Linked DNA regions of Homo sapiens. The protein of the gene in region 3 purifies or fractionates together with the protein of the main gene of each other region. This does not show direct contact. Each region holds a gene or a part of one and is shown on either strand. Other genes may lie near its edges.

What was found.
Region 1: the proteins of ZNF324B (region 3) and PTCD1 purify together in Homo sapiens (affinity purification with mass spectrometry; 2 studies listed by BioGRID and IntAct, with this or other methods). This does not show direct contact.
Region 2: the proteins of ZNF324B (region 3) and HELZ2 purify together in Homo sapiens (affinity purification with mass spectrometry; 2 studies listed by BioGRID and IntAct, with this or other methods). This does not show direct contact.
Region 4: the proteins of ZNF324B (region 3) and RRP12 purify together in Homo sapiens (affinity purification with mass spectrometry; 2 studies listed by BioGRID and IntAct, with this or other methods). This does not show direct contact.
Region 5: the proteins of ZNF324B (region 3) and DGCR8 purify together in Homo sapiens (affinity purification with mass spectrometry; 2 studies listed by BioGRID and IntAct, with this or other methods). This does not show direct contact.
Region 6: the proteins of ZNF324B (region 3) and ZNHIT3 purify together in Homo sapiens (affinity purification with mass spectrometry; 2 studies listed by BioGRID and IntAct, with this or other methods). This does not show direct contact.
Region 7: the proteins of ZNF324B (region 3) and NOP14 purify together in Homo sapiens (affinity purification with mass spectrometry; 2 studies listed by BioGRID and IntAct, with this or other methods). This does not show direct contact.

Annotation. Positions count from the first base shown.
Region 1 is NC_000007.14:99,428,670-99,432,458, forward strand, and holds part of PTCD1 (pentatricopeptide repeat-containing protein 1, mitochondrial), read right to left. Parts: intron 1,138-3,789; coding exon 919-1,137; intron 536-918; coding exon 434-535; intron 1-433. Other genes in the region: ATP5MF-PTCD1 (ATP5J2-PTCD1 fusion protein), read right to left, coding at 434-535, 919-1,137. UniProt on the Homo sapiens protein: Mitochondrial protein implicated in negative regulation of leucine tRNA levels, as well as negative regulation of mitochondria-encoded proteins and COX activity. Also affects the 3'-processing of mitochondrial tRNAs.
Region 2 is NC_000020.11:63,571,287-63,575,627, forward strand, and holds the start of HELZ2 (3'-5' exoribonuclease HELZ2), read right to left. Parts: upstream 2,954-4,341; 5' UTR 2,898-2,953; intron 1,936-2,897; 5' UTR 1,100-1,935; coding exon 822-1,099; intron 1-821. UniProt on the Homo sapiens protein: Can degrade highly structured RNAs through its concerted ATP-dependent RNA helicase and 3' to 5' exoribonuclease activities. Shows a strong preference for pyrimidine over purine residues for its nuclease activity.
Region 3 is NC_000019.10:58,450,282-58,454,629, forward strand, and holds the start of ZNF324B (zinc finger protein 324B), read left to right. Parts: upstream 1-1,340; 5' UTR 1,341-1,423; exon of another isoform or gene 1,424-1,472; intron 1,473-1,514; exon of another isoform or gene 1,515-2,501; intron 2,502-2,905; exon of another isoform or gene 2,906-2,985; intron 2,986-3,414; coding exon of another isoform or gene 3,415-3,420; coding exon 3,421-3,541; intron 3,542-3,946; coding exon 3,947-4,063; intron 4,064-4,348. UniProt on the Homo sapiens protein: May be involved in transcriptional regulation.
Region 4 is NC_000010.11:97,366,646-97,370,434, forward strand, and holds part of RRP12 (RRP12-like protein), read right to left. Parts: intron 3,630-3,789; coding exon 3,522-3,629; intron 2,938-3,521; coding exon 2,780-2,937; intron 488-2,779; coding exon 396-487; intron 265-395; coding exon 97-264; intron 1-96.
Region 5 is NC_000022.11:20,090,147-20,093,935, forward strand, and holds part of DGCR8 (microprocessor complex subunit DGCR8), read left to right. Parts: coding exon 1-112; intron 113-1,288; coding exon 1,289-1,486; intron 1,487-1,722; coding exon 1,723-1,824; intron 1,825-2,662; coding exon 2,663-2,761; intron 2,762-3,789.
Region 6 is NC_000017.11:36,489,603-36,493,212, reverse strand, and holds part of ZNHIT3 (zinc finger HIT domain-containing protein 3), read right to left. Parts: intron 401-3,610; coding exon 314-400; intron 1-313.
Region 7 is NC_000004.12:2,939,403-2,943,191, forward strand, and holds part of NOP14 (nucleolar protein 14), read right to left. Parts: intron 2,950-3,789; coding exon 2,790-2,949; intron 2,328-2,789; coding exon 2,180-2,327; intron 244-2,179; coding exon 125-243; intron 1-124. UniProt on the Homo sapiens protein: Involved in nucleolar processing of pre-18S ribosomal RNA. Has a role in the nuclear export of 40S pre-ribosomal subunit to the cytoplasm.

The DNA.
Region 1 (3,789 bases), on a different chromosome or scaffold from region 3:
GGCGGAGGTTGCAGTGAGCCAAGATCGCTCACTCCAGCCTGGGCAAGAGTGAGACTCCATCTCAAAATAAATGAATGAATGAATGAATGAATGACTCCTGGGTTGCACCTGCAGAAGTGCTAATGGGGGTGTGGGAGGGTTGAACAAGTCCCCAGGTGAGTGTGTGGCAGGCTTTCAAGGAAGGTGAGTTTAGAGGGGCTAAGCCGACTGCAAAGCAGGGTGGGAGGGGCGGGGGCCACCCTCATTCCATCTCCAAGGGCCTCCTCTCCCTGCCATCTGTAGAATGGAGGCTACAGTGGCTGCTGGGTTTTCAGAAAAGAGCACAGATATAAAAATACTCAGCACAGGGCCATCGTGGGTGCTCACAGGATCACCATTTTGCACCTCTGGCACCGGGGAAGCAGGGCAGGAAGGTGGGGTGGGAGGGACATACCTGGAGGGCGTACCGGAAGCCTGTCTTCTTGTCTTGGATGCAGCCCATGAGCAGGAAACTGAAGGTCTCCTCTGTGACCACGTGCCCTTTGTGGATGATTTCCTGGGGGAGGGAACAAAGACGTCCCACTGAGAACCTGCAGCAGGCTGGGCATGGTAGCTCATGTCTGTAATCCTGGCACATTGGGAGGCCAAGGCAGGATGATCACTTGAGGCCAGGAGTTTTGTGACCAGCCTGGGCAACATAGCAAGACCCTGTCTCTAGGAAGCCTTCCCTCGAGTGCACAAAGCAGGACACAGCACACGGTGGCATACACAATCTCCAGTAAGGTCTCATCAGATCCATCTGTGAACCCCAGGGCCCAATACCGGCTGTCTCATCCTCCCTAAGCCTTCCTACATGAGGAGAGACAGACACCACAGCCCTGCCCCTGACACGTGGGACCAGCCCCATGAAGGGGAGCAGGACGGCAGGGGAAGCCCCACCTTGAACACATCGAGGCACATCCTAAGGTCTGCGCACTTGGCAGCCATCTTCAGCAGCGCGTGGTATGTTTTCAAGTTGAGCTCGAAGTTTTTGGCCTGCAGCTGCTGCCGGAGCTTCAGGGCGCTCTGTAGAGCTGAGTCCTTCCAGGGGGACTCGGCACAGACGTTGAACAGGGCCGTGTAGGTGGCGTCCGAGGGCTCCAGGTCCCGCTTTTTCATCTGTGGAGATGGAAGAAGCTCAGTGGTGGCCCGGGATCAGCTGGACGCACAGGTGAGCAGCTGCCCCAGAGGAGGCTGAGGCTGGAGAGGACCCCGTCACTGCATCCACCAGGCCAGGCTCTAAGGCAGAGCCATGGACACATCAGAGCCCAGCTCTCCAAACTCAGACACATTGAAGGGACTCTGAAAACTGAGCCCACACACCCAGATGTACCAAACAGGAGCTACCCTGCCCTGGGCACTTGTCAGCCCACTCCAGGCCTGGGGTCCTGGCAGCAAGGTCTTCCTGATGTCCCCACCTTCAGGCCACCCCGTCAAGGGGAAAGGGCCTGTAGTGCTTACTACCTGAGGGCTCCCGGGCAAGTTAGCACTTCCTCGCGAAAATGGGGATGACACCATCACCTTGAAACCAGGCATGCCTGTGGCAAGTGGGAGGATGCACTGCAGTGCTCTAGGGGTGGCCCCGAACCAGTGGCACAATGCACATTCTCAGGGCCACCTGATCTGGTAAGTCACAAGCCCCGGAGCTGAGTGACACTCAGCTTACTGAGCCTCCAGGGGACTAAGGCATGTGCTCAGGGTTGACAATCCGTGGTGAAGCCTAGCACTCGCTATTGGCCAGAGAAGGGCCATCTGGACAAAGGCAGGCGATAGGCAGCTCAGCGGCAGAAAGAACCCTGCTAGAGTCAGGCCATCTGGGGCTCAAATCCCAGCCCCGGTGCATTCAAGTGGGGTGGCCTTGGACATGTCCCTTCATCTCTCTGTGCCTCAGTTTCCTTATCTGAAAAGCAAAGAGGGCAGTCCCTACTTTGAGGATGATGTAAGCTCTGCGTGTATTGCTGCACTCCACAGAGGTGCACTGACAACTCACTACCTGCCCAGCAGCAGCCCTGGGGTTAGCAGAGCGGGCACAGCCTATCCTTACTGAGCTTACACTCAAGAAGGGAGACACACTGCAGGTGAGTCACCAAAAACAGTAACAAGGCTGGGTGCCGTGGCTCACGCCTATAATCCCAGCACTTTGGAAGGCTGAGGTGGGCAGATCACCTGAGGTCAGGAGTTCGAGACCAGCCTGGCCAACATGGCGAAACCCCGTCTTCTACAAAAAACACAAAAAAATTAGCCAGGCATGGTGGTGGGCGCCTTTAATCCCAGCTACTCGGGAGGCTGAGGCAGGAGAATTGCTTGAACCTGGGAGGTGGAGGTTGCATTGAGCCGAGGTCGCACCACTGCACTCCAGCCAGGGTGACAGAGCCAAAACTCCCGTCTCAAAAAAATAAATAAATAAAATAAAATAAATAAAAACAATAAAAATATTAGTTTTTTTTCTTTTTTTTTGAGATGGAGTCTTACTCTGTCGCCAGGCTAGAGTGCAGTGGCGTGATCTCGGCTCACTACGACCTCCCTCCACTTCCTGGGTTCAAGTGATTCCCTTGCCTCAGCCTCCTGAGTAGCTGGGACTACAGGTACGTGCCACCACGCCCAGCTAAATTTTGTATTTTTAGTAGAGACAGGGTTTCACCATGTTGGCCAGGATGGTCTCAATCTCTTGACCTCGTGATCCGCCCACTTTGGGCTCCCAAAATGGTGGGATTACAGGTGTGAGCCACCGCACCTGGCCAAAAATAATAGTTTTTTAAAATAGATGTAATGGGCTGGGTGCGGTGGCTCACGCCTGTAATTCTAGCACTTTGGGAGGCCAAGGCGGGTGGACCACTTGAGGTCAAGAGACCAGCCTGGCCAACATGGTGAAATGCTGTCTCTACTAAAAATACAAACAAAATGAGCCAGGCATGGTGGCATGTGCGCCTGTAGTCCCAGCTACTCGGGAGGCTGAGGTATGAGAACTGCTCGAGCCCAGGAGGCGGAGGTTCCAGTGAGCCGAGGTCGCACCACTGCACTCCAGCCTGGGCGACAGAGCGAGACTCTGTCTCCAAAAAAAAAGGACTGTAGGAAAAAGAAAGAGAGATCAGACTGTTACTGTGTCTATGTAGAAAGAAGTAGACACAAGAAACTCCATTTTGTTCTGTACTAAGAGAAATTCTTCTGCCTTGAGATGCTGTTAAACTGTAACCCTAGCCCCAACCCTGTGCTTGCAGAGACATGAGCTGTGTTGACTCAAGGTTTAATGGATTTAGGGCTGTGCAGGGTGTGCTTTGTTAAAAAAGTGCTTGAAGGCAGTAGGCTTGATAAAAGTCATCGCCATTCTCCAATCTCGAGTACCCAGGGACACAATACACTGCGGAAGGCCGCAGGGACCTCTGCCCAGGAAAGCCAGGTATTGTCCAAGGTTTCTCCCCATGTGATAGCCTGAGATATGGCCTCGTGGGAAGGGAAAGACCTGACTGTCTCCCAGCCTGTCCCCCAGCCCGACGCCCATAAAGGGTCTGTGCTGAGGAGGGTTAGTGAAAGAGGAAGGCCTCTTTGCAGTTGAGATAAGAGGAAGGCATCTGTCTCCTGCTCGTCCCTGGGAATGGAATGTCTTGGGTGTAAAACCAGATTGTGTGTTCTATTTACTGAGATAGGCGAAAACCGCCTCAGGGCTGGAGGTGGGACCTGCTGGAGACAATACTGCTCTTTGATGCACGAGATGTTGTGTAGGTGCACATCAAAGCACAGCACCCTTCCTTAAACTTATTTATGACACAGAGA
Region 2 (4,341 bases), on a different chromosome or scaffold from region 3:
CTCTGCCTGTGGTGGGCTCCTGCCCCGCTCCAAGCTCCTGGGAGCCTCTGGCTCTGCCTGTGGTGGGCTCCTGCCCCGCTCCAAGCTCCTGGGAACCTCTGGCTCTGCCTACGGTGGGCTCCTGCCCCGCTCCAAGCTCCTGGGAACCTCTGGCTCTGCCTACGGTGGGCTCCTGCCCTGCTCCAAGCTCCTGGGAGCCTCTGGCTCTGCCTGTGGTGGGCTCCTGCCCTGCTCCAAGCTCCTGGGAACCTCTGGCTCTGCCTACGGTGGGCTCCTGCCCTGCTCCAAGCTCCTGGGAGCCTCTGGCTCTGCCTGTGGTGGGCTCCTGCCCCGCTCCAAGCTCCTGGGAGTCTCTGGCTCTGCCTACAGTGGGCTCCTGCCCCGCTCCAAGCTCCTGGGAACCTCTGGCTCTGCCTACGGTGGGCTCCTGCCCCGCTCCAAGCTCCTGGGAGCCTCTGGCTCTGCCTGTGGTGGGCTCCTGCCCCGCTCCAAGCTCCTGGGAGCCTCTGGCTCTGCCTACGGTGGGCTCCTGCCCCACTCCAAGCTCCTGGGAACCTCTGGCTCTGCCTACGGTGGGCTCCTGCCCTGCTCCAAGCTCCTGGGAGCCTCTGGCTCTGCCTGTGGTGGGCTCCTGCGCTACTCCAAGCTCCTGGGAGCCTCTGGCTCTGCCTACGGTGGGCTCCTGCCCTACTCCAAGCTCCTGGGAGCCTCTGGCTCTGCCTGTGGTGGGCTCCTGCCCCACTCCAAGCTCCTGGGAACCTCTGGTTCTGCCTATGGTGGGCTCCTGCCCTACTCCAAGCTCCTGCCTCGAGTATCCTTACTTTGGGCAGAGCTCGAACTTGGAGAGTCCCGGGGGTGGGGAACGGTGCTCCCAGGGCAGGGCCTGGTCGAAGGCCACCATCTGTGCGTGCTCCGAGGATGCGCAGTGGTTCTCGAAGGCCTCCTGAGAGTGGCAGGTGACCAAGCAGGCCGGGCAGTACAGCTGGGCCCCAGGGGGCTGGCCAAGGGGGGCCGTGCGCCCGTCGCCATCAGGGGCAGGGGGTGTGAGCAGGTCCCCCCGCTGGAGGCCACCCAGCTGCTCGGCCTCCCACACAGCCATCTCCACGGCGCTGTGTGCAAACTGGCAGCGGGACTCCCCACGCCAGCACGGCTGCCCACGCCCCACAAACCTGCAGTAGGCAGGAGGCTGGCCGGCCCGGGGCCGCGGCCTCACCACCACAAACTGTTGCTTGCGGCGGCCCTCGGCGCTCACGTGGGCCAGGAGGGAGGGGCAGGCTCCGTGCTCAGGGCACTGCCCCTGGGGGTCCACGCGACAGATGCATGGGGGACAGCGCCTGAAGCAGAGGGAGCAAAGCAGCTCGAAGCGGCCGCCAAACTCCGTAAGGATGGCGTCGGCCGCCCGGCCTGCCCCTCCCTGGGCCCCGCTGCCCTGCACCTCCGCCTTCAGCCATAGGCGCTGGAGGTTGTGCTGACGCTCGAAGGTCCAGACCAGGGCCTCCTCGCGACTGCGGGCAAAGGTGCACCGGTTTCGGTGGCGCCGGCAGCCGAGCCCAGGGCTGTAGTAGTGGCAGACTTGGTAGCACAGGGGCCTTGGGAAGGTGGGCCGGCAGCCCACCACGCGCCAGACCTTGCTCTTGGTGGCCTGCTTAAAGCGGGCCAGCAGGATCTCGCGGGAGCAGTCATGCTCCACCCTACGGAGGACGTAGGTGCTTTCATTGAGCCGCTGGGTGCAGCGGGAGCAGCCCAGACACAGGTCCACCAGGGCACACAGCCGGGCCAGGGACGGCCCTCTGGTGGCCGCGGGGCTGTTGGGCAGCAGGGTGGACCCTGGAGGCGCCACCTCGAACACCAGCTTGGCTCTCCAGGGAGGCGTCTGAGGCTCCTGAGCTCACGGGTCCACGCAGTCCACTGGAACTGTTGGCCACGGTTCGAAGCCTGCGACAGAAGGAGCAGGTGAGACTGAGGCCAGAGGACATCTGGTCCAGGCCCAGCTCAGAAGCACGGCCTCTCCACCAGGCAAGGAGCTGGGGATCTGCCTATCCTGATGCCCAAGCAGAGGCCTCTCCACCAAGCAAGGAGTTGGGACTCTCCCCACCCTGACGCCCAAGTGGAGGCCTTGGCAGTAGCTGTGTCCTGTCAGGGAGTACAGGGCTCACTGACCCGGACACAGCCAGACCCTCCCTCCTGAAGGGTCTCAGGCCCCACCTAGAAGGAGCCAAGGTGACTGCTTGTGGAGCCCTGGAGGGGGCAGAGCCCTTGGCACAGTGCCGCCCCCAGGAGGCCGCACCCCTCTGCCCCAGCCAGGGGTCCTGTGCACCCCAGGGCCTCAGGCTCCTGACTCTTCTAAGGACACAGCACCTCCTTTTCTATTGAATGACCACTGGCCCCCAGGAAAAGAGGACTCCACATCTGCACCTGGGGAGGGGCCTCACGGAGAGGAGGGTACAGTGCCCACCAGAGCTCAGGGTGCCAGGAAGAGATGGGTCCCCGGGTCCCCACCGCAGCTGGGATGCTACAAGAAGAGTAAGTTTAAAAGCAACAGACTGGAGGCAGACTTCAGTATGAGAACCCGGCACTCCCCGCGGACCCCTCTGAGAAAACATCCGAGTCTGCCATCCAGAAAGGACGGGAGCCGAGACCCCAAAATCCTGCGCTCCAGTGGGTGCAGAGACCACAGCGCTGGGTCTTGCTGCGGAGGGTGCTGGTCCTGGACGGGCTGCACTGCCCCGGGCTGGGTCTGTGGCTCCCGGGACTCCGCGCCCCCGGCTGCACTCACCCTCCCGGACCCCCCCCTCCGCCCCCGGCCCCGCCACCCTGGGACCCCCGCGCTCACCCTCCTGGAGCCGCCCCTGGACCCCCGCGCCCCCGCCCCTCCGCCCTGGGACCCCCGCGCTCACCCTCCTGGAGCTGCCTGCCCTGCCGAGCCTGCCCAGGAGCTCTCAGTTTCGATTCTGGCCCGGGCACTGACGCTGATCGCGGAAATTACCTCACCGCCCCCCGCCCCGCCCCGCCCTGCCCCGCCTCCAGCGACAGCTCGGCCCCCGCTGCGAGGGAACCTCGGGAAGCGCCAGCGAGCAGAGGACGCCCCTCCCTGAAGGGCCAGCGCCGTCGAAGGCGGAGGCGGCTGGGGGTGGGGGTCCTTTCCCGCACCCCTCCAGGGCCCCACGCCCCGTCCAGCCCTTCACACACCAGAGACGCCCCGATGATGTGCCAGGCGGAAGGGGTGAGACCCTGCCCGGCCCTGGACGGCAGGATGGTCTGGTGACTCCACCATCAGCCCCTGGAGAAATCCAGGCACAGCTGACCTGGAAGCCTGGGTCCCCTGACAGGCAGGACCTGCCCGTGGCCCTGGTGCTGCTGGGACCCCAAGTCCCTTCTGTCACCAACCAGGATATGGCAGGAATGGCTAAGTGGCCGCCGGGTCCCAGAGTCAGCACGCCTGGCTCTTGGCTCTCTGGACTGGCTCTGGGCCCTCAGCAGCCCTGTGGGGAGGCCCCATAGAGGAGCTGAGGCCTCCAGCCCACTTGCAGCTCGAGTCCCAGCCCCAGCCTTACTGCCATCTCAGGGAGACCCCAGGCCTAACCCTCCCACCTAGACCACGCCCAGCTGTTAGATGTCTATGTTTAAAATAAACGTCCCATTAGCCAGGGGTGGGGGCGGGCGCCTGTAGTCCCAGTTACTCGGGAGGCTGAGGCAGAAGCATTGCTTGAACCAAGGAAGTGGAGGTTGCAGTGCGCCAAGATTGCGCCACTGCACTCCAGCCTGGGCAACAGAGCAAGACTCCATCTCAAAACAAATAAATAAATAAAATAAACATCTGTGTTGTTTTAAGCCCCTGAGCTTTGGGGCGATCTGTTCTGCAGCAGTAGATAACGGACAGTGATGCTGCCCCTGAAACAAGGAAGCAAGGCTGCCACCCAAGGCCAGCACCTCGTGGGGAGGGCCAGGCTGGGGGCTCACAGCGACCTCGGGAGGTCGGCTGGGTGGGCCGTCAACCACCAGGGAGCCTCTCCGCAGACCAATCACGTTGGAGCTCCTGGGAGAGGGCAGGCCCTCGACAATAGCAGCCCCAGGGGCCGGGCGCTGAGCAGGGTCCATGTGCGTGGAACGCTGGGAGAATTTGTGTGGAACGCTGTGTTCCTGGATGGAGAGGCTCAACACCACACAAAGACGTGAGTTCCTCCTAAACTAACCTGCAGTCGCATGGTGGACACACTGACTTTCAAGTCCATTTGGAAAAGCATCACATCACCAAGAAAGGCTGGACAGGGCTTTTTTTTTTTTTGAGACTGAGTCTCCTTCCATTGCCCCGGCGGGAGTGCAGTGATGCAATCACAGTTC
Region 3 (4,348 bases):
ATATGTCTTTATCAGCAACGTGAAAACAGACTAATACACCAGGCATCGTGGCTCCTGCCTGTAGTTCCAGCTACTTGGGAGGCTGAAGTTGGAGGACTGTTTGAGCATGGGAGGCGGAGGTTGCAGTGACCCGAGTATGCACCACTGCACTCCATCCTGGGTAAGAGAGTGAGACCCTGTCTCAAAAAAAAAAAAAAAAAAGTAAAAAAAAATTGCTTGAAATGTTAATAATGCCTCTAAGCATTTGATTAAATCACAATAGTACTTAAGTGTTCTTAAATTCTTTCAAAGCAGGAAAAATTTAAATAAAAACATTCAAAAATTGTCGAGCTATCTTACACTATAGGGATCTACAAGTAGAATCAATTCTGTGGACAGTTATAGCTGACAGTAGACAGATATTTATAGATGGAGGTGGGTATAGAGGAAGACAAAATGAATTAACGTACTTGACATCTGAGAACTGTCTAAGGATCCTAAAAACAAGACCCTCACAGGGAAGCAACAAAGAGAGAATCGTTTATTCTCTGCCAACAACATGGTCAGTCTACATTGAGACTGCCCTGCCTTTTGTTGTTATGTGTCAAAGACACTTAGATTGGTCCAGAGAAAAAAGGAACAAAGCATCCATGTTGTGATGTGTGGGGCAAAGCAAGAACTAGATGGTCTAAGGACAAGCAAGGCTGGGGAATTACCTTCTGCTCGTCCAAGTTACAAGGAAAACAAGTTTTGGGCGAGCGTCCAAGAACAATCACAGAATCAAGACAAATGACAAGCGGGTAGTGTCATTACAGGCTGAGAATTCTTGGTGTAGAGGTTGAAAAACGGACCTTAAACCTTTACGGGACACTGACACACAGAGAGATCAAACCCTCGCCCAGGATGCACAGTCAGTGAGATGCAAAGCTGGGAAGGGAACCCGGAGCTCCAGGCATCTGCTCCTCCACCTACACCTGCCCTACCCGGTGCGTTTTCTCCTCCCTGCTACCTGCTGGTGTTGCCTTCTGGAACCTCCGCAGTTTCTGCTTTCACACCTGCAGGGTTTAGTCTCCAGGGCTGCTTAGGTGGGTGCCAGGAACTGGGAATCCCCAACGCGGGACAACCTGCCGGGCGACTCAACCAGTGCCACGGAGCCCTTGGAAACCCGCGGCAGCTGCGCTACTCCATTTCCAGGCGCCCAGCGCGGCGGCGCTTAGCCGTTGCCATGGAGACTGGTAATGGCCCCGCCTCCGCGCCGAAAAACAGGCAGGAACCACATAACCCAGAAGGCTGTGCGCAAGCGTCTGCGCGCGTATTGGGGCAATGTGAGCTCTGGGGGCTGGACTTCCGGCGTTGGGACTGTCACTTGGCTGCTCGCGTCAGGCCACACCGGTGGTCTGGGCTGTGGCGCGCGGGTCGGGGCCCGAGGCGGGCGGCCAGGAAGGTACGGACCACGAGCAGCCGGCCGCGCCCCCAAGCCTCGGTATCTTCGAGTATGACGTGGTCGGCCCGGGGGCGGTCGGGCCCCGGCGGGAACCACGCGTTCTCCCGCCCCGCGGAAGCCCAGGAGGCAGCGCATTGGGCATTCTGCGCCCATGACTGCCGGGCAGGCTGAGGCGCGGGGCAGCCGCGGGAGGCTGCTGGCGGGGATGGCGGTCCCGGGTGGTCCATGCCTTTCTTCCCTCCCAGTTGCGGGTTCCGCTGGCGGCGGTGGCGCTGACAAGCCCGCGCCGGGGGGGCGGGGGAGTCCCTGCTCACACAGACTGCGCCCCCACGGAGTGAGGCCGCTTCCTAGACCTCGCCTAGTCGTCTTTCCTCTCCCTGCCCTGGGGGGGTTGCGGGGGTCAGTGCAAACTCCTGCGTCCAGGGCACTGGTGAGCTCCCGACTTCCGGCAGCCAGGGGGCTGAGGTCCCGAAGGAGGCTCCGAGGGGAGAGTCCTGCGTGTGCAAAACCTGGGAGGGGAGCCGAAGCCCAGATGCTTCTGGGACTGAGCGCTCTCGATGTGGAGCTGGAGTAGAGGGGATGTGTGCGGCTGCAGTAGCAGGCGAGGGAGTGGGCTTTATCTCGAGGGCGTCGGGAGACATAGAAGTTTTGAACAGAATCAGGACATCCTCTGAGTTGGGACTTTAAAACGGTTCCACCGTTTGTTGCGTGGAGAACAGACATGCAGGGGTGTCGGCATGAAGGGAAGAACCGACTGCCACAGTCTGGGCAGCAGTGGAGGTGGGCGACCAGGTGAATTCTGGTGGATCTGCGGATGCATCAGGTGTGGGCTGTTTGAAGAACTAAGTACCCCATGTTGTTCAGCCTGAGCGCCTGGAAGAAGAGAGCTGCTGTAGATAGAAAGGAGAATTGAAAGGAAAGCAGGTTTCCTTCAGGGGAAAGATCAAGAGTCTGGGATGTCCCAGGTTGGTCATGTCACTGGACCTGACGTTGTTGGTGTCCTGGGCTGAGGACAGGGCCTATAAACTGGACTGAAGAAGGCGATGAGCAGTCAGGCGTGCGGAGTTACAGCTTGAGGGTAAAGAAAACCGGCTGGGGTGCCTGAGGCTATCAGGGGAGGAGTTCGGCAGGTGGCTGAATAGGAGAGGGTGGCAGCAATGTGGGAAAGAAATTGCGGGAGCGCTGAGATCGAGACCATCCTGGCTCACACAGTGAAACCCGGTCTCTACTAAAAATCCAAAAAAATTAGCCAGGTGTGGTGGCGGGAGGCTGAGGCAGGAGAATGGCGTGAACCCGGGAGCCGGAGCTTGCAGTGAGCCGAGATTGCCCCACTGCACTCCAGCCTGGGTGACGGAGTGAGACTCCGTCTCCAAAATAAAAATAAATAAATAAATAAATAAATAAATAAATAAATAAATAAATAAATTGAGGAGGGGGCGCCATGTGGAGGGAGGAAGGGATTGAGTTCCCCTGTGTTCACAGGTTCTTGGGGCTGCACCCCTATGACGACTGGTGGGGATCATCCAGTCCCTCAGGCTGGATGAGCAGCCTGGAAATGTCAGGCAAGCGCAGCAGGGGAAGGTCTCAGTGATGGGCATGCCTGGGGGGTCCACAGCTGGGACTTACACCCTTGCTTATTACAAAAGCAAGAAGGGCACATCTGGGGAGGGTCATGAATGGTCATGCTGAGTCACGAGTGGATATTTGGGGCTGCCCTTGGTGTGGCAGCTAAGGGCCCAGCCAGGGCTTGCTCTAGCCTGCTTGTGTAGGGGTGGCCAGTGGGGAAGTCAAGAAGCCATCTGGGGCCTGGACCAGGAGGGCAGAGGGGAGGGGTCCCAGACAGGTGAGGGAAGTGCCACCTGAAGATAATCTCGGGGTGGAACCCAAGGAAGGAGGGACACTGGGGGAGGTGACTGTTGGGATGGGGAGCTTGGTCCTGGCTCACAGCCATACCTTAGACCATGCCTACCTCCACCTCCCTGCTGTTTTAGGACCTGATGACCTTCGAGGATGTGGCCGTGTACTTCTCCCAGGAGGAGTGGGGGCTCCTGGACACAGCGCAGAGGGCCCTGTACCGCCACGTGATGCTGGAAAACTTCACACTTGTGACCTCACTTGGTAAGGCCCTGGGTGCTCCATGAAAAGTGCACTTGGTGACAATCAGGACTGCCTCTTCACTTCCCTCCTGGTTGATGAGCAGGATCAAATCTGGCCAGGGCCACGTGGAACAAGGGTCTGGTCCTGTAGACACAAAGTTTGGTTGGGTCAGCCACTCCTTGCCGCCCTGTCCAGCTGTGGCCTCTCTCATGCCTGGGCTCAGTCCCGTTGCTTTGGTGCTCTGGGCACAGTTGCTGCTCTGGGGACACATGAGCTATTCCTATGAGCCCCTTGCCCTGTGCTATCTTTAGATTCTCCCAGTTGCACAGATTACTGTCTATTTCCATGAAGCCCTGACTCCTGCTCTCTGTTGGGAGGTGGGTTGTCTTGACCTGGGGCTGGGCTCTCACCTGCTCCTCCTCACAGGACTCTCTACCTCCCGACCTCGTGTGGTCATTCAACTTGAGCGTGGCGAGGAGCCCTGGGTTCCCAGTGGAAAGGACATGACCCTGGCCAGGAACACCTACGGGAGGCTCAACTCTGGTGAGTGGGAGCTCAGGTGGGGTGAACTAAGGACCAACCTGTGGCCAAGCCCATGTCCCTGCTTTTCTGACTCTGGAAACACATCCTCCTCTCCTGCCTCCTACCTGACTCCCTTCTCTTCCATCATCAGCCTCTCCTGGAGGCTGCTGCCTTAGTAGGTGCCCTTGAAGGGAGAGCTCCAAGGGCACAGGAGCTGGGTTCACACAGAAGGGCCTACCTTCAGCTGGGCTGTGTGGCCTTGAACCCTCCACAACTAGCAGCCATTATTGATAGGTATTTATTTCG
Region 4 (3,789 bases), on a different chromosome or scaffold from region 3:
GAGTGCTCCCAGGAGAGGCGGGGGTCAGCGGGTATTGCCTGGGCAGGCCCTTGGGTTGGGGGGACACCGGGTCCCATGGCCCTAACATGGTCTCACCTGTCACCTTTGCCCTGGGCGGGCTCCTCCTCCTCCTCCTCCTCTTCTTCCTCCTCCACGGCAGCCTGGCTCAGGGCTCGGTGCCTCTTGGCCCGGGCCTCAGCTTTCCGGATGTTGACCAGGACTCTGTGGTACTCCTCGGGCAACAGCCTTTTCACCAGCTCAAATCTGGAGGTGGCAAGGAAGGGCTGGTGAGAGGCACTGGCCAGACAGCACGACCCAGATGTAGTGTCCCTGGTAGGACTGGAAATCCTCGGCCCCTCGCTTGCCCTACCCCCGCCCCTGCTCAGTGCACAGACCCAAACTTGCGGATGAACTTGGTGAACAGGTTCCGAAGCTTCATGCGGAAGTGCCGCCGCATGTCATCTGAAAGCTTCCCAATGGCTTCCATCTGCCGGACAGAGCACCAGGCTTTCAGGGAGGCGAGCCTTCCATGCTGCGCCCCCTTTACTGCTGTCCAGCCCAGGGACGCAGCATGATCAAGCCCAGCTGAGGGGAGGGTTAGCGCGGCCCTGCTCCTGGCCCACACCCTGGCCCAGTCATGCTTCCCTCGGGTGGGCAGGCCCCATCTTTCCCCTGCACCCTCCTTCAGGACACAGGCCTGAGCACCCTCGCAGGATGAGAGCTTTAGTCTTCTCAACAGCACTTGGTACTTGACATATATCCTCTCCTTGAATCCTTGGACTACCCCTGAGATACATGCTATCACCCCCTATTTATAGAAGAGGACACGGCGGCACAGAGGATAAAGTGTTTGCTAAATGGCCATAGAGGTGGGAGTTCAGCCCAGACTCATCTAATGCTGCGGCTCCCGCTTTGCCCCTAGCACCCCAAGATTTCTCTTGGTCCCCTATGTCCCTTCCATCTCACTGCATTCTGCTCTGGCTGGATTCCTCTTAAGCCTTCATCTGGCCCAGTTTGGGTTACATGTGCAGGTGGCAGATCTTCTTATCTCCAGTGACTCCCAAACCGGCTAGGGGATAGGGTCCACGTCTACTCCTTTTTTTTGAGATGGAGTCTCGCTCTGTTGCCCAGGCTGGAGTGCAATGGCACGATCTCAGCTCACTGCAACCTCCACCTCCTGGGTTCAAGCAATTCTCCTGCCTCAGCTTCCTGAATAGCTGGGATTACAGGTGCCTGCTATCACGCCTGGCTAATTTTTGTATTTTTAGTACAGACAGGGTTTTACCATACTGGCCAGGCTGGTCTTGAACTCCCAACCTCAGGCGATCCGCCCACCTTGGCCTCCCAAAGTACTGGGATTACAGGTGTGAGCCACTGTGCCTGGCTTTTTTTTTTTTTTTTTTGAGACAGAGTCTTGCTCTGTCACCCTGGCTGGAGTGCAATGGCATGGTCTCGGATCACTGCAACCTCCGCCTCCCAGGTTCAAGCAATTCTCACACCTCAGCCACATGAACAGCTGGGACTACAGGCGCGCACCACCATGCCTGGCTAATTTTTGTATTTTTTAGTAGAGATGGGGCTTCACCATGTTGGCCAGGCTGGTCTCGAATTCCTGACCTCAAGTGATCCACCCACCTTGGCATCCCAAAGTGCTAGGAATATAGGTGTGAGCCACCGCTCCTGGCCTCCCCAACCACTCTTGGAAGGGCTTCTATAAATCCCTTTTTTTTGAGACAGAGTCTTGCTCTGTTACCCAGGCTGGAGTGTAGTGGTGCAATCTTGGCTCACTGCAACATCCGCCTCCCAGGTTCAAGTGATTCTCCTGCCTCAGCCTCCCGAGTAGCTGGGATTGCAGGCACCTGCCACCTCGCCCAGCTAATTTTTGTATTTTTAGTAGAGATGGGGTTTCACCATGTTGGCCAGGCTGGTCTCAAACTCCTGAACTCAAGTGATCTGCCTGCCTTGGCCTCCCAAAGTGGTGGGGTTACAGGTGTGAGCCACTGCAGCCGGCCAGGGCTTGTATAAATTCGAATAACTCCATGATGGATCACTGCTCTAGCTGTTCTCCCCACCTTTGGTCCCTAGTAGGCTGCAGGCTCCGAGGGCAGCGGGAGGGCATGCTGATTCTCATCTGTCCCTTCCTATCTTGAACCCAAGGCCAGACCCAAAGAAAATATGCAAGAGGGACCCAGAGGTCTGATGTGACTCAAGCCAGTCACACATGGGAAACTGAGGCAGTAGGTACAGTGCACAGCTTGGCTGGAAGCCTACGCCAGCCTGGGCAAGGCTTCTCTTGGGCAGGAGAGGGCCAGGGACCCTATACCAAGGGGCTCTTCAGATCCTTCTGCAGCCCAGCAGGGGACCCAAAGGAATGGCCTCTAACCAGCAAGGTCAAAATGCAAGATGGGAAAAAAAAAAAGGCAAGATGAGGGGGTCCTGTGGAGGGAGAGCCCAGCGTCTGAGTCCCATGATCTGGAAAATCTCTGGCCCAGTTTCTCCATCTGTAAAATGAGGAGTGGCCCTGCCCATGGGCCTTTGCCCTGAAGAGCCCCTGTTGCTTTCCATGTAGGGCTCTGGGGTGAAGAAAGCCACCTGGGCAGTGTGCCCCCTCCTCGCCTCCACCTGACAGGCATTCCCCTATGGTCCCTTTTAGGGCTCCTTAATGACCTCTGGCTACAAAAAAAATAGTTTGAAACTTGCTGGCCTCGAAGCTTGCCAGGTCCATGCCAACAGCTCAGAGGCCACCCTGCTACCTGCTAAGGGGAACGGGGACACTCACCACCAGCTGCACATGTTTGGCCAGGTGCGCCACGTCCATGACAGTCACTGCCACCTTGATGAAGCCCAGTGCAGACTTGACCACGTCACGGGTGCGGGAGGCCAGAAGCAGGCACACATTCTCCAGCAGCTGCTCCACTGTACTGGTCCCCATCAGACCTGTGGCAGTGAGGGGGTCACTGTCTAAGACACCCAGGACCCCACTCAGACCCAAACCTTCCCCACTGGAAAACAGCCACTCAAGTGTCAGTAAAAGCTGACATTGAGAGCCTTTCCGTATGCCCGGGATGGTTCCAATCACGCTCCATGGAGTGGTCTTGGGTCCTTTCGTCACCCTGAGGTGGGTGCTATTTCTTGCTTCCATTTTAGAGATAAGAAACTGAGGTGCTAAGAGGCTAATCAAGCTGTTCTAGGTCTCATGTGGTTGCCAAGAGGCAGGACTAGGACTAAAATCCAGGCATCAGCCCTAACCACCTCCTAACCACTCTGACAATGGGATGCAGGGCCACTGGACTGCACAGTCACACGTGGGGACAGACCTGAGGAAGGTGCCTTGGCATAGCCGCAAGGGCGGGAGGCAGCGACCCGCAGGAAGGGAGACAGGGAGGCAAACTGGGCTGGGTGTGGCTTTTCTTACTTCCTCCAGGCACCTTTTCCCAGTTCCAGGAGCCACTTTATCCTGACCTTTTGGGCATCTTCCTAATCTGAGGGCTTCTCAGGCCTTCTAGGAAATAAGCATTTACCTTTAAACTCGAAAAGGAGGTGGGTCAGGGCCAGGATGCTGCAGCTGACCATGGTCACCGCGCCCACCAGGCCAGGGTAGATCAGGACGAGGTAGCACTGCAGGGCCTCTGGGGACAGAGACCAACGTGGGTCAAGCAGGAAGGACCCACCAGGTAGGGGGGCTGAGGGCCAGAGAGGAGCAGCCTGCCCAGGGCCAGGGCACAGAGCTCTCCCCACCTTTTTTGAGGGGTGCTTCCCCCCACCCAGTCTATGAGCAGAGTGTCCACC
Region 5 (3,789 bases), on a different chromosome or scaffold from region 3:
GGTGCTGACCCGGGGCCCCCGGACGAGAAAGACCCACTAGGGGCTGAGGCAGCCCCTGGGGCCCTGGGGCAGGTGAAGGCCAAAGTCGAGGTGTGCAAAGATGAATCCGTTGGTGAGTTTTTGAAGGACTCTTCCCTTCTTGCCTCCTGGGACCCATGAGCTTTGTTTTTCTAATGAAGGCCATAATTGTTCATAGTTCCTAGTTGTACTTGTGAGCAAGGGGCTGTGCACCTCCACTGTTGGTGTGGCTGAAAGGCTTGTCTTCCTGTCCTTGCAAGAACCTGCCTGGGTGCAGCACCCTAGGCTCCTGTCTGTGGGCTCTGTGGTGTCTGCATGGCTGAGGCTGCTGGGGAGATGGCTGCTGGCACTGGCAGTGGGCCGTTTTCTCTCTGGTTGTTTGTATGATCTTTCCCTAAGTCTTGCTTTTTCAGTAGGATGTGCTCATGTGGCATTGTTTTGATTTGTCTTGATGAGCTCAGTGAGCCTCTTTAATCCATGACTCAGTGTTGGGAAACTGTCACCATTCTGTGGATAGTTCCCTCTTCAATCCTGCAATTGCTTGCTGGATGTGTACTGGTGTTTCCCATTCTCTCTTCCATGTCTTTTAGCCTAGTCCCGCCATTTAAGTCTTAGTTCTCTCTTCAGGTGTGGCAGGTCTCTGTGAACCCACCTGCTGGATTACTTTCAAAGAGCACTTTCCATTTTCTAGGTTTCTATTTGTCTGTACATCACTACCCAGCCTGTCTCATAACTCCGTGGAGTGTGGGGTGCCCTAGAAGAGCCTGTGATGGGGGCTGTTGCTGAGGATGGGGAAGTGGCCCGGGAGGAAATGTGACAAATGCGAGGCCCTGTGCAGGGAGCTGCCTGGGTGTGTTGCTGACTACAGAGGTGGCCAGGATGGCCAGAAGGAAAAGAGTGAGGTGGTCAGAGAGGTGGCGGGCGCATGGAGCCCGGGTGCTGCTGGCATTCGGGCACCTGTTTTGATACAGGGAGGAAGTCCCGAAGGCCATCTGACTTTTTTAAGCTGTCTTTTTTCCTTTTCATTTTTGTATTCTTCCTGCCCCAAATAAAGTAAAAGAACATCTCAGAAATTCATCCAGAAGGGACCTGCCAGAATAATCTGAGCTGGTGTAGGGAGGCCTTCATTCTTTGCTTCCCTCCCCTTTGAAAGGGACGGGGAAAGGAAATAGTGTCATGTGGCCTGGGCCTGCCCCATGCACTGGGCTGTGAGAACCTGACTCCTATGTTGGAAGTTAAGTAATTTGTTTCTCTGGTAAATCTGGGACAGATCTCGAGGAATTTCGAAGCTACCTGGAGAAGCGTTTTGACTTTGAGCAAGTTACTGTGAAAAAATTCAGGACTTGGGCTGAGCGGCGGCAATTCAATCGGGAAATGAAGCGGAAGCAGGCGGAGTCCGAGAGGCCCATCTTGCCAGCCAATCAGAAGCTCATTACTTTATCAGTGCAAGATGCACCCACAAAGAAAGGTATAAGCCTCTGCATTTTAACATCAGCAGACTGGTTATGCTGTTATTTCTAATGTGATGTGTTGAGGGCATGTTTTATGAGTTGCATTTCGTTCAAAGTTTATGTTTATCCCATGAATGCAGGGGTCTGCCACATTCACGGTCGTGAGCCCCTAGTTACTGACATGGTAACAGGAAGCTGTGTGCTAGCTTGTGGCACTGCTTCACACTTGCTGAGATGGTTCTTTTTGTCACAGAGTTTGTTATTAACCCCAACGGGAAATCCGAGGTCTGCATCCTGCACGAGTACATGCAGCGTGTCCTCAAGGTCCGCCCTGTCTATAATTTCTTTGAATGTGGTAAGTCTAACCTTCCCCATTTCAGTCCTAAAGAATCACAAGGTGTAACTTTGGTCAGGGCTGGGGAGGCAGGCGCTGACCGCTAGCCCTACTCTACTGGAACGGGAGGAAAGGGAAGGGTAGAGAGCAGCGTGCTGCAGATGGGTGGCTTGTTTCCTGGAGCCGCGCCCCATCTGAGTGGGTGGCTCTGCTTTTCCCTTCCAGTCTGTCCCCTCTCCCCACCTTCCTCTTGTCCTGCCCCATCTGCCTTGCTGGTTTCTGATCCTGCGTTGTCATGGACAGCCTTATTGCGAGCAAGGCCTCCCCACTGTGCACTGGGTCCTTTCCCTGGTCTCCTGGTGCCCCTGGGTGTCTGAAGGGTTCTTGGGCATGCATTTCCCACCAGCTCTGTCTTCCTTGGGTGCCCTCATCACACCTTTGTGAAGACCAGTCTGTCTTCCCCTTGGAAGCTGGAGCCTGGGGGTCACTCATCCTTTGAGGTGGTGTTTCTTTGGCAAGCCACATCTTGTGCTTTCCCATTCCGGCAGTCCTGTGTCCGTCTTTCGTAGACCTTGGTCCCTGTCGTAGGAGGCTCTGCCCCCAGCCTCCTGCTGCCCCTCTGGCTCACCATCTCCCACGTGCCTCATTTCCCTCCACTTTCCCAGCTGTGCCCTTTGCTGCTGCTTGTCTGCTGCCCGTCTCCAGTCCCAGGGAGCCCCAGGTCTCTGCAGTCAAGCACAGGCCCACTCTCTGCAGGGACAGCCCCTGACTGCGCCTTGTCTGTCGGTGTGGGCAGACTGTGCACACGCTTTTGATGTCTTGACTCGTATGTTTTAAAACAAGTAATTTTAATTTTAAGAGAACCCAAGTGAGCCTTTTGGTGCCTCGGTGACCATTGATGGTGTGACTTACGGATCTGGAACTGCAAGCAGCAAAAAACTTGCGAAGAATAAAGCTGGTAACGTGCTTGCTTGGGTGTCAAAGATACGTGCTGCCTGCTGTGTCTGCCTCGCTGCTTGGTTAGGGAGGGGCTGAGCAGTGGTGACAAGTGGGGGATGTGGGTGGGGCATGTTTATTTTATTTATGTAATCATCTACTTTGATTTTTAAAATTACATGCTCATTGGAAAAGACTCAAATAGAGCAAAATGTGAGACTTAAAAGTAGAAGGCCTCGGCCGGGCGTGGTGTCTCATGCCTGTAATCCCAGCACTTTGGGAGGCTGAAGTGGGCAGATCACGAGGTCAGGAGATCGAGACCATCCTGGCTAACACGGTGAAACCCTCTCTCTACTAAAAATACAAAAAATTAGCCGGGTGTGGTGGCGGGCACCTGTAGTCTCAGCTACTCGGGAGGCTGAGGCAGGAGAATGGCGTGAACAAGCGAGGCAGAGCTTGCAGTGAGCTGAGATCGTGCCACTGCACTCCAGCCTGGGCGACAGTGCAAGACTCTGTCTAAAAAAAAAAAAGTAGAAGGCCTCTCTACTGAGTGACAGCTGGGCCAGTATGTCCCTCCCTAGTCCTGGCCCTGCACATATTCAGGGGTGTGCCTAGAGCCAACTGGGCTGTGCTGGGCACATGCTGTAGTGCTTGTTTGTTTTTAAACTGAGCAGCATGTGGGCATGCCAGGAGGGAGGAGAAGCGGGCCAGCATGCTGTTGGCATCCTCCCCCAGTGGTGCTGGCTCTTACCGGCACTATTTCCTGAGTCCTCCCACTCCATGTTTGGGCCTAGCCACACAGAACACCTGGCACAGCGCAGCTCTGGGAAGGCTGTGTGTCCTGGCGAAGACCCACTGCCCTTTTGGACCATGCCCTTGCCGTTTGCATTCATGCCCTGCATTCGTGGTAGTTGACATTCTTTCACAAAAAGCCATTTGCCTCAGCGTCCAGGGTTAGTTGGCTTCTTGTAGGGTGGTGTTGGGTGTACCCCAGGCCCTCGCACCCACAGGTTGATTCTCGAGGTATCTGTCATTGCCGTGTGTTTTCCA
Region 6 (3,610 bases), on a different chromosome or scaffold from region 3:
AGGGAGACCAGCAGCTATGGGCTAGAGAAGGCTCCTGCCAGCAGGGCCCACCGCAAACCCCCAAACCACAGCCATGGCCTTTCTCATCTCTGTCTTCTGCCCATTTTTCTTCTCCTGAATACTGCTTTCAGGCTGTTGCCTCAATATCACCCATGATGACATGGCCCCACTCCTGATGCTCAAGGCTAAGGAAGCTGTTCCTTCCCAATGAAGCTATTGTTCTGGATTCCCTGACCAGCCCCACTCTCCCCTTTTCCTTCGACTTATTCTATGTGAAGTCCCTTGTAGATTTGTTTGAAGTCAACCAACCCACCTTTGTTTTCCACAGGCTTTACGGTTTTGGTAGGAAGAGCTGATCTTATTTTTTTCTCAACAGGACGAGTTTCAGGGTTGCACTGTTCTGAAAAAGACACAAATCCCAGGCCCACATTACCTCCATTTCAGCGACAAGGCTGCACCTCCCTACCAAGGTAGCATCTAGGTAGGAAGCAAGTGTCTGGGGTAAGGGATGTGGGTGGGTGCCCAGGAATGTGGAAGAAGTGAGAGATCAAAGCAAGAGAGAGATTAAGGAAAACCGCCAGCAGGCTGAGAAAGCAGGACTCATTCATGCACCCCAAGAACCTGTCCCCATCCTCCCTACCCTGCCGAATCTTACAAAATTCTCACCACAATTAACTGAGGTGTTTGAAATAGCTGCTGTAAACCAGATACCAGATGGGATAAAACTAGGGGCAAAACCACCAAAGAACTTACAGAGTCAACAGAAGGCCAGCTGTGCTGGCTCACGCCTGTAATCCTAACATTCGGAGGCCAAGGTGGGAGGATCACTTGAGCCCAGGAGTTTGAGACCAGCCTGGGCAACCTAGCAAGACTATGTCTCTACAGAAAATAAAAAAAATCATCCAGGCATGGTGGTACACACATGTGGTCTCAGCTACTTGGGAGGCTGAGGCAGGAGGATCCCTTAAGCCCAGTGTGTCAAGGCTGCAGTGAGCTGTGATTGTGCCACTGCACTCCAGCCTGGGTGACAGTATCAACAGAGCATGAAGTCACAGGAAAGGGTTCTGAGGACATAAAGGCAGGACCAGATTGTAGAGACTTAAAATGTAGATTTGACAATATGCTACGGAAAGGTTCTAGTCATGTAGGTGGCAGTTACAACAGCTGCCAGTGACTAAGTGCCGAGCACTGTGCCAGGTACACAGTGAGATACATAGTGGCTCAATGAACCTTTACGAAGCCCCCATGACATGGAGACTGTTAATTCCACTTACAGATGAAAGGATTAAATTTTCTTGTAATAAACTTGTCCATTGGGGTCCACAGCTAGTAAGTAGCAGAGGCAGATTTGGAATCCGGGTCTAACTTTACGGCTATGCTATATGTGTAAGGAACACAGCAGGAGGGACTGAAGGAGAGGTGAATTTTCTGGGTTGTACCTGACCCCAAAATACATTTGTGTCTAAGGTGCTCAAAAAGAGGCTGGAGCTAAACAGTTGGATGTCAGCAAGAAAAAAAAAAGTTTAAAGTGAAAGAGAGATCACCTACCTAGGAATAAAAGTCAAGGACCACATTTCAAGAGAGAGATCTAGCAAAAGGAAGGAGAAGCTGGGCACAGTGGCTCCTGCCTGTAATCCCAGCAATTTGGGAGGTTGAGGCAGGAGGACTGCTTAAGCCCAGGAGTCCAAGACCAGCCTAGACAATACAGTGAGACCCTGTCTCTACGAAAAATAGATAAAGTTTGTCTCCGTTACTCAGGAGGCTAAGGTGGGAGGATCACTTGGGCCCAGGAGGCCAAGGGTGCAATGAGCTGTGATCACACCACTGCACTCCATCCTGGGCAAAAGAGCAAGACCCTGTCTCGAAAAAAGGAAAAAAAAGAAAACGAGAGTCTACAGCTAAGCCACCCTGAATGCACCCTATCTCATCTGACCTCAGAAGCTGTAACAGGGTCAGGCCTGGTTAGGACTTCGAAGGGAGAAAGGGAGGAGAGAATACCACAGAGCGGTATCTTCCCAGCCTCCAAAGAATATCAAGAAAGAAAAAGCCAAACACAGCAGATATTCATGGGAATCAAGAAAGATGACAGGCTGAGCATGGGTAGCTCACGTCTGTAATCCCAACGCTTTGGGAGGCCAAGGTGGAAGGATCACTTGAGCCCAGGAATTCAAGACCAGCCCAGGCAATACAGTGAGACTTCATCTCCACAAAAATTAAAATTAAAAATAAATAAGCCAGGCATGGTGGCACACGCCTGCAGTCCCAACTACTTGGGAGGCTGAGGTAGGAGGACTGCCTGAGCCCAGGAAGTCAAGGCTATAGTGAGCACCACTGCACTCCAGCCTGGGTGACAGAGCAAGACTTTGTTGCAAAAAAATAAAAAAGACAAATGAAAAGTGTACAACAGATGTGGCTATTAGAAATTTCTGATAAAAATTATTTATTAAATACCACTTTAACACTGCCTATAGCAGCAACAAAGGCAAAATTAATGTAAATATCCACCAATAAGAAAAATAAATATTAAAATGACCATACTACCCAAAGTAATCTAGAGTCAATGCAATCCCTATCAAAATACCAATGATCCTGTTCACAGAAATGTCAAAAAAAAATTCTAAAATTAATATGGAACCACAAAAGACCCCCAATAGCCAAAGCAATCCTGAGCAAACAGAACAAAGCTGGAGGCATCACCACTACTTGGCCTCGAAATATACTACAAAGCTATAATATCTAAACAGCATGGTACTAGCATAAAAATAGACACATAGATCAATGGAACAGAATAGAGAACCCAGATATAAATTCACACATTTACAGCCAACTGACTTTTCACAAAGGCACCAAGAGCATATACTGGGGAAAAAAGCACTCTTCAATAAATGGTACTGGAAAAATAGGATAACTGTAAGAATAACCATATGCAGAAGAATGAAACTAGATCCTTATCTGTCACCATATATAAATATCAAAATGGATTAAAGACCTAAATGTAAGACCTGAAACTACTACAAGAAAACACAGGGGAAATGCTTCAGGACATTGGTCTAGGCAAAGATTTTATGAATAAAATCTCAAAAACACAGGCAAGAAAAGCAAAAATAGGCAAATGGAATTCTATTACACAAAAAAGCTTCTGTACAACAAAGGAAACAATAGAATGAAGAGACAACCCACAGGATGGGAGAAAATATTTGCAAAATATTCACTTGACAAAGGATTAATATCTAGAATACACAAGGAGCTCAACAGCCAAAAAAAAAAAAAAAAAAAAATTAAGTGGACAAATGGGCCGGGCATGGTGGCTCACCCCTGTAATCCCAGCCCTTTGGGAGGCCGAGGCAGGTGGATCACCTGAGGTCAAGAGCTCAAGACCAGCCTGGCCAACATGGTGAAACCTTGTCTCTACTAAAAATACAAAAATCAGCCAGCAGGCACCTGTAATCCCAGCTACTTTGGAGGCTGAGGCAGGAGAATCACCTGAACCCTGGAAGCGGAGGTTGCAGTAAGCAGAGACTGCGCCACTGTACTCCAGCCCGGGCGACAAGAGCAAGACTCTGTCTCAAAAAGAAAAAAAAAAAAAATGGGCAAATGAGCCAAACAGACA
Region 7 (3,789 bases), on a different chromosome or scaffold from region 3:
CCTGCTTGGGAGTGTGGCTTCACTCCGTAGTCATCTGCTCAACTGCAGAACTGGCAGACGCCCCCCGTCAGCTCCCACTGAGCCCACAGCCCTGGCCTCCCAGGGAGATGCTGCCAGCACCCACACTTTGACCAGCCGGGGTGTGAAAAGCTTCAGTGGGACAGGCTTGCTCTTCTCACAGGTCAGCGGCCGGCAGAGCTGCTTCTGGCTTTCCATTTCGGTCAGTGTGCTCTGACACAGCTCCTGAAAAACACGAAATCCCCGACTCTGCGATGACTCACCTGCTGCGTGCCCTGAGCTCCACGCACGGGTTCTGTGGTGTCAAGGCAGCGTGAGGACAGTGCTGCGAGCTCCCTGCAGCAGGATGGTGCCCTTGCTGTGCGCCTACCGGTGGGCGGGGGGGTAAGCCAAGGCTGTGGCTGCTCAAGTCCTGGCACAGCCGGAACGAAGTAAAGCCACTGTCTTCTTGAAGAGGGAGGGCCGTGGGCTGGCCCCTGAGAGCACTCTCTGAAAGGAGGGGACTTGGGGAGTTGGAGGTCACCATAGCCTGTGCTCCTCACAGCCAGAAACGTCAACAGAACCCCTCTTTCCCAGACAAACTTGGCACGAAAGGCCGTGAGCCACTTGCTTCGTGAGAAGGCTCACAGGAGAACCCCTTTCTGCCGCGGGGGGCCGTGTGCATGCTAGAGCCCAGTGTGCAAACTGACGCTGGGTGCTAGGCGGGGCAGGGTTTCCACCAGTCTTGGCAGTTTGACCTTATTTTCAAGCCAACAGAACCAGATGGTTAAGACCCATTTTCACCAAGACCTTGGCTTCCAGAAGAGTTGGCTGGTGGCTTCTGAGGAATCTCCCGAAAGGTAGTTCACTGAGGTTGGTCCTACCCGCTTTCTCCTGCACAGGTGTGTCCTGGAACCCTGGCTGCACCCACAGATACAGCCACTCCTGGGCCCATGTGGATGTAACCTTCGAGTGCCGGAATGCCTCGTCTCCATGGAGACCAAACTCAAGGGCCTGACTGGCCCAGTCTACCGAGACCATGAGACCTGCTGTGCCCCTCGGCCAGGCCAACCCAAATTCTTTTAAATAAAAGGCACAAGCCACAGCCACACCAGCAGGAAGTGGATACAGGATAAGGGGCAGGGCTCACATCTCATCCTCATCAGCCTTTGACCAGGCGACGGAGTCTGTGATAGCTAGCTTATCTGCTCTATGCTCCAGGGACCTGGCCGGAACGAGCCGAGTTGCTGTCCTCATGGAACTCTCATCCTAGTGGGGCAGAGACAAGGACGGTGTAACGTGCCCGGGGGTCAGCACCACAGACAAAACGCAGGGAGCACGGCACAGTGTGGGCCAGGGAAGGCCTGGCTTCCCAAGGGTGTGGGCGCGAGCAGCATGGCTGTGGGGAGTTCTAGGTGCAGAGAACTACTCCAGAGACGAAGCCAGGCCTGCGAGGAGGCCGGAGCGCATGAGGGGAAGGCACGAGGCAAGGCTGCCAGGGCTGTGCTGGTGGTGCGGGACGGTCCTGTGGGGGTAGCTGCGGAGATGGCACTGATGCCTTCGGCTCCAGCAGCATCCTGGGCTGGTGCGGGCCAATAAGGGGCAGGGTTGGGGCAGGATGAAAGGCACAAGCCACAGCCATGTCAAGCAGGAAGTGGATGCAGGGTACAGCCTGTCAGGGTCAGGGTGAAAGGCAGGGAGGCGGGTAGGCCATAGGTGAATTTGGAGCAGCCTGTAGAGGACAGGATGTGCCATCAAAGACTTGTTCTTGGGTCCAGCTGAGACTGTCCCTTGGGGCTTCCTGTCACCTTGTGCAGGATAGTGAGACCATCCTTGGAAAACCCATCGGGACTGCAGAGCGCGGCTCAGAGCTGACTGTCCAGGCCTGGCAGGGGCTGACCCCTGGGCGCTGGTGCACCCTCCGTGCGGCCTCTTGGAGGAAGCACACAAGGCGACAGTTCCCAGCTGCCGCCTGAGATGCAGCATCTGCTTTACTCCAGCCCAGCACTGCTCACCGTCACTGCCCACTCTTATGATTTTACTTCCCTTCATATTTGTGATTTTGCAAAGATGGTGTTGACTTACAGCTGCAGCATCAAATGACTGACTGCCACCAGCTTGGCCCCAGCTCAGGGACATGTCTGAGCCCAGGCAGAGCACCCTAGTGGCCGGGAAGCCTCACCTGGAGCTCCTGCGGGTGGCTGCAGTCCGCCAGGTGATCCGTGAGGAGGGCTTGGAGAGGCCCCATGATGGCGTGGAAGGATGGCAGGGACCCGTACATGAGCACGCAGCGCTTCAGCAGGGCCAGGCCCACAGCCAGGCAGGACAGTCTGTGAGGGCAGGAGGCAAGAGGAGGTCCAACTTGTTCTGTTTGTCACTGACAAAACCAATAACGTGGCAAAAATGAACTTCCCCACTTCCACTAGGCTGAAAACTCCAGTGTGGCCACCTTGGCCGGCCAGGGTTGGGCCCATGCAACCACGGGCAAGGCAGGCTCAGGGTCAGGCCTAACGCAGGAGGGGAGGCTGTGGGAACCGCAGCGCCAGCTGGGATGGGGCGGCTCCATTTTTGGTTCCAAATTATGATTTGTGAAATCAAGCAAATGTATTTTGAAAATGAAAAGAAAAAGGGACAGCAAGCCAACATGCCTCAGAAAGGCTTTCGGCCTCCATCAAACCAAACGGCCGGGCGGCAAGTTCACTAAGAACAGCACATCAGAAAGCACGAGTGGCTTCTCCTGCCTCTGGGGACGCTGTAGGGCACAGGCCCCAAAGCGGGGTCCCCTCACATACCGGATGTGATTGGCCTCTGTCGAAGTTGGGGCCCTCAGTCTACTCGCCCAGCGGAGGGAGAGGCTGCTCTGCTGCCACGTGGCCACATCCTCTCTAGCAGACACCACGAGCAGTTCCGAGTTCTTCCCAAGCGCTCTGAAAGGGTGCACCAGAGTGGAACCTGAATTCCAAGTGCGACAGGACAGAGATGGCCTGAACATTACTGGGCTCCCAGCAGGCTCTGCGGCACCGAGCCTGTGGAAGTTCACCCTCTAACAGACGCACACCGATTTTTATGTTTCTGGGTTGTGCCAGACACTGAGGGTTTCAGCGTGGGCAGGGACACCTCAGGGGAGGGGAAAAGCTTTGGCAGGGGGCGCGGTGAGAGCCAAGTGCCTGATCCTGCCTGAGAGGCCTGCTGGCCACAGACTTCCTGGGGCCTACTAGGCACACATGGGGCTGATGAGGCGCTCAGGCCACATCCGGGAACAGACTGAAGTCCCTGCCCCTGTCGGGGAGACAGGCAGTGCACAGCACCCAGAGGAGCAAATGGACCAGACAGAACACGAGAAAGGAAAGTGGAGGGGCAGGAGGGAGACAGGAGAGTCAGTCGGGGGTGACGGTGGAGGGCGGGAGAGGCCTGAGGGGCAGACGTCAGCAAAGGCCTGTAGGACGCAGGAGTCAATTCACTCGCCACGGAGAAGGGCAATCCAGGCCGAGGGTGTGGCTACACGGGGAGGGGTGGAGAGTGGGTACAGTGGGGCAGAGGTGCCGGGCCAAGCGAGAGGGGAAGGCGTGGGTCAGGCCCCGCCCCACACTTCCCCAAAGCCGAGATGCCCACCCCTTCCTTGACTCCACCTGTGCCCAGCCTGTTCCGTCACAGCCCTTCACACGTGGGACTGCAGCTATCTACAGGTGGCTCTCCCGGAGGCAGGGAGCATGTGGGCGGCCGCGCCCCTCTGGCGCCCAGCACCGAGCCTGACAGACAGGAGCCTTGGGAGGCAGGTGGTGGCAGAATGGG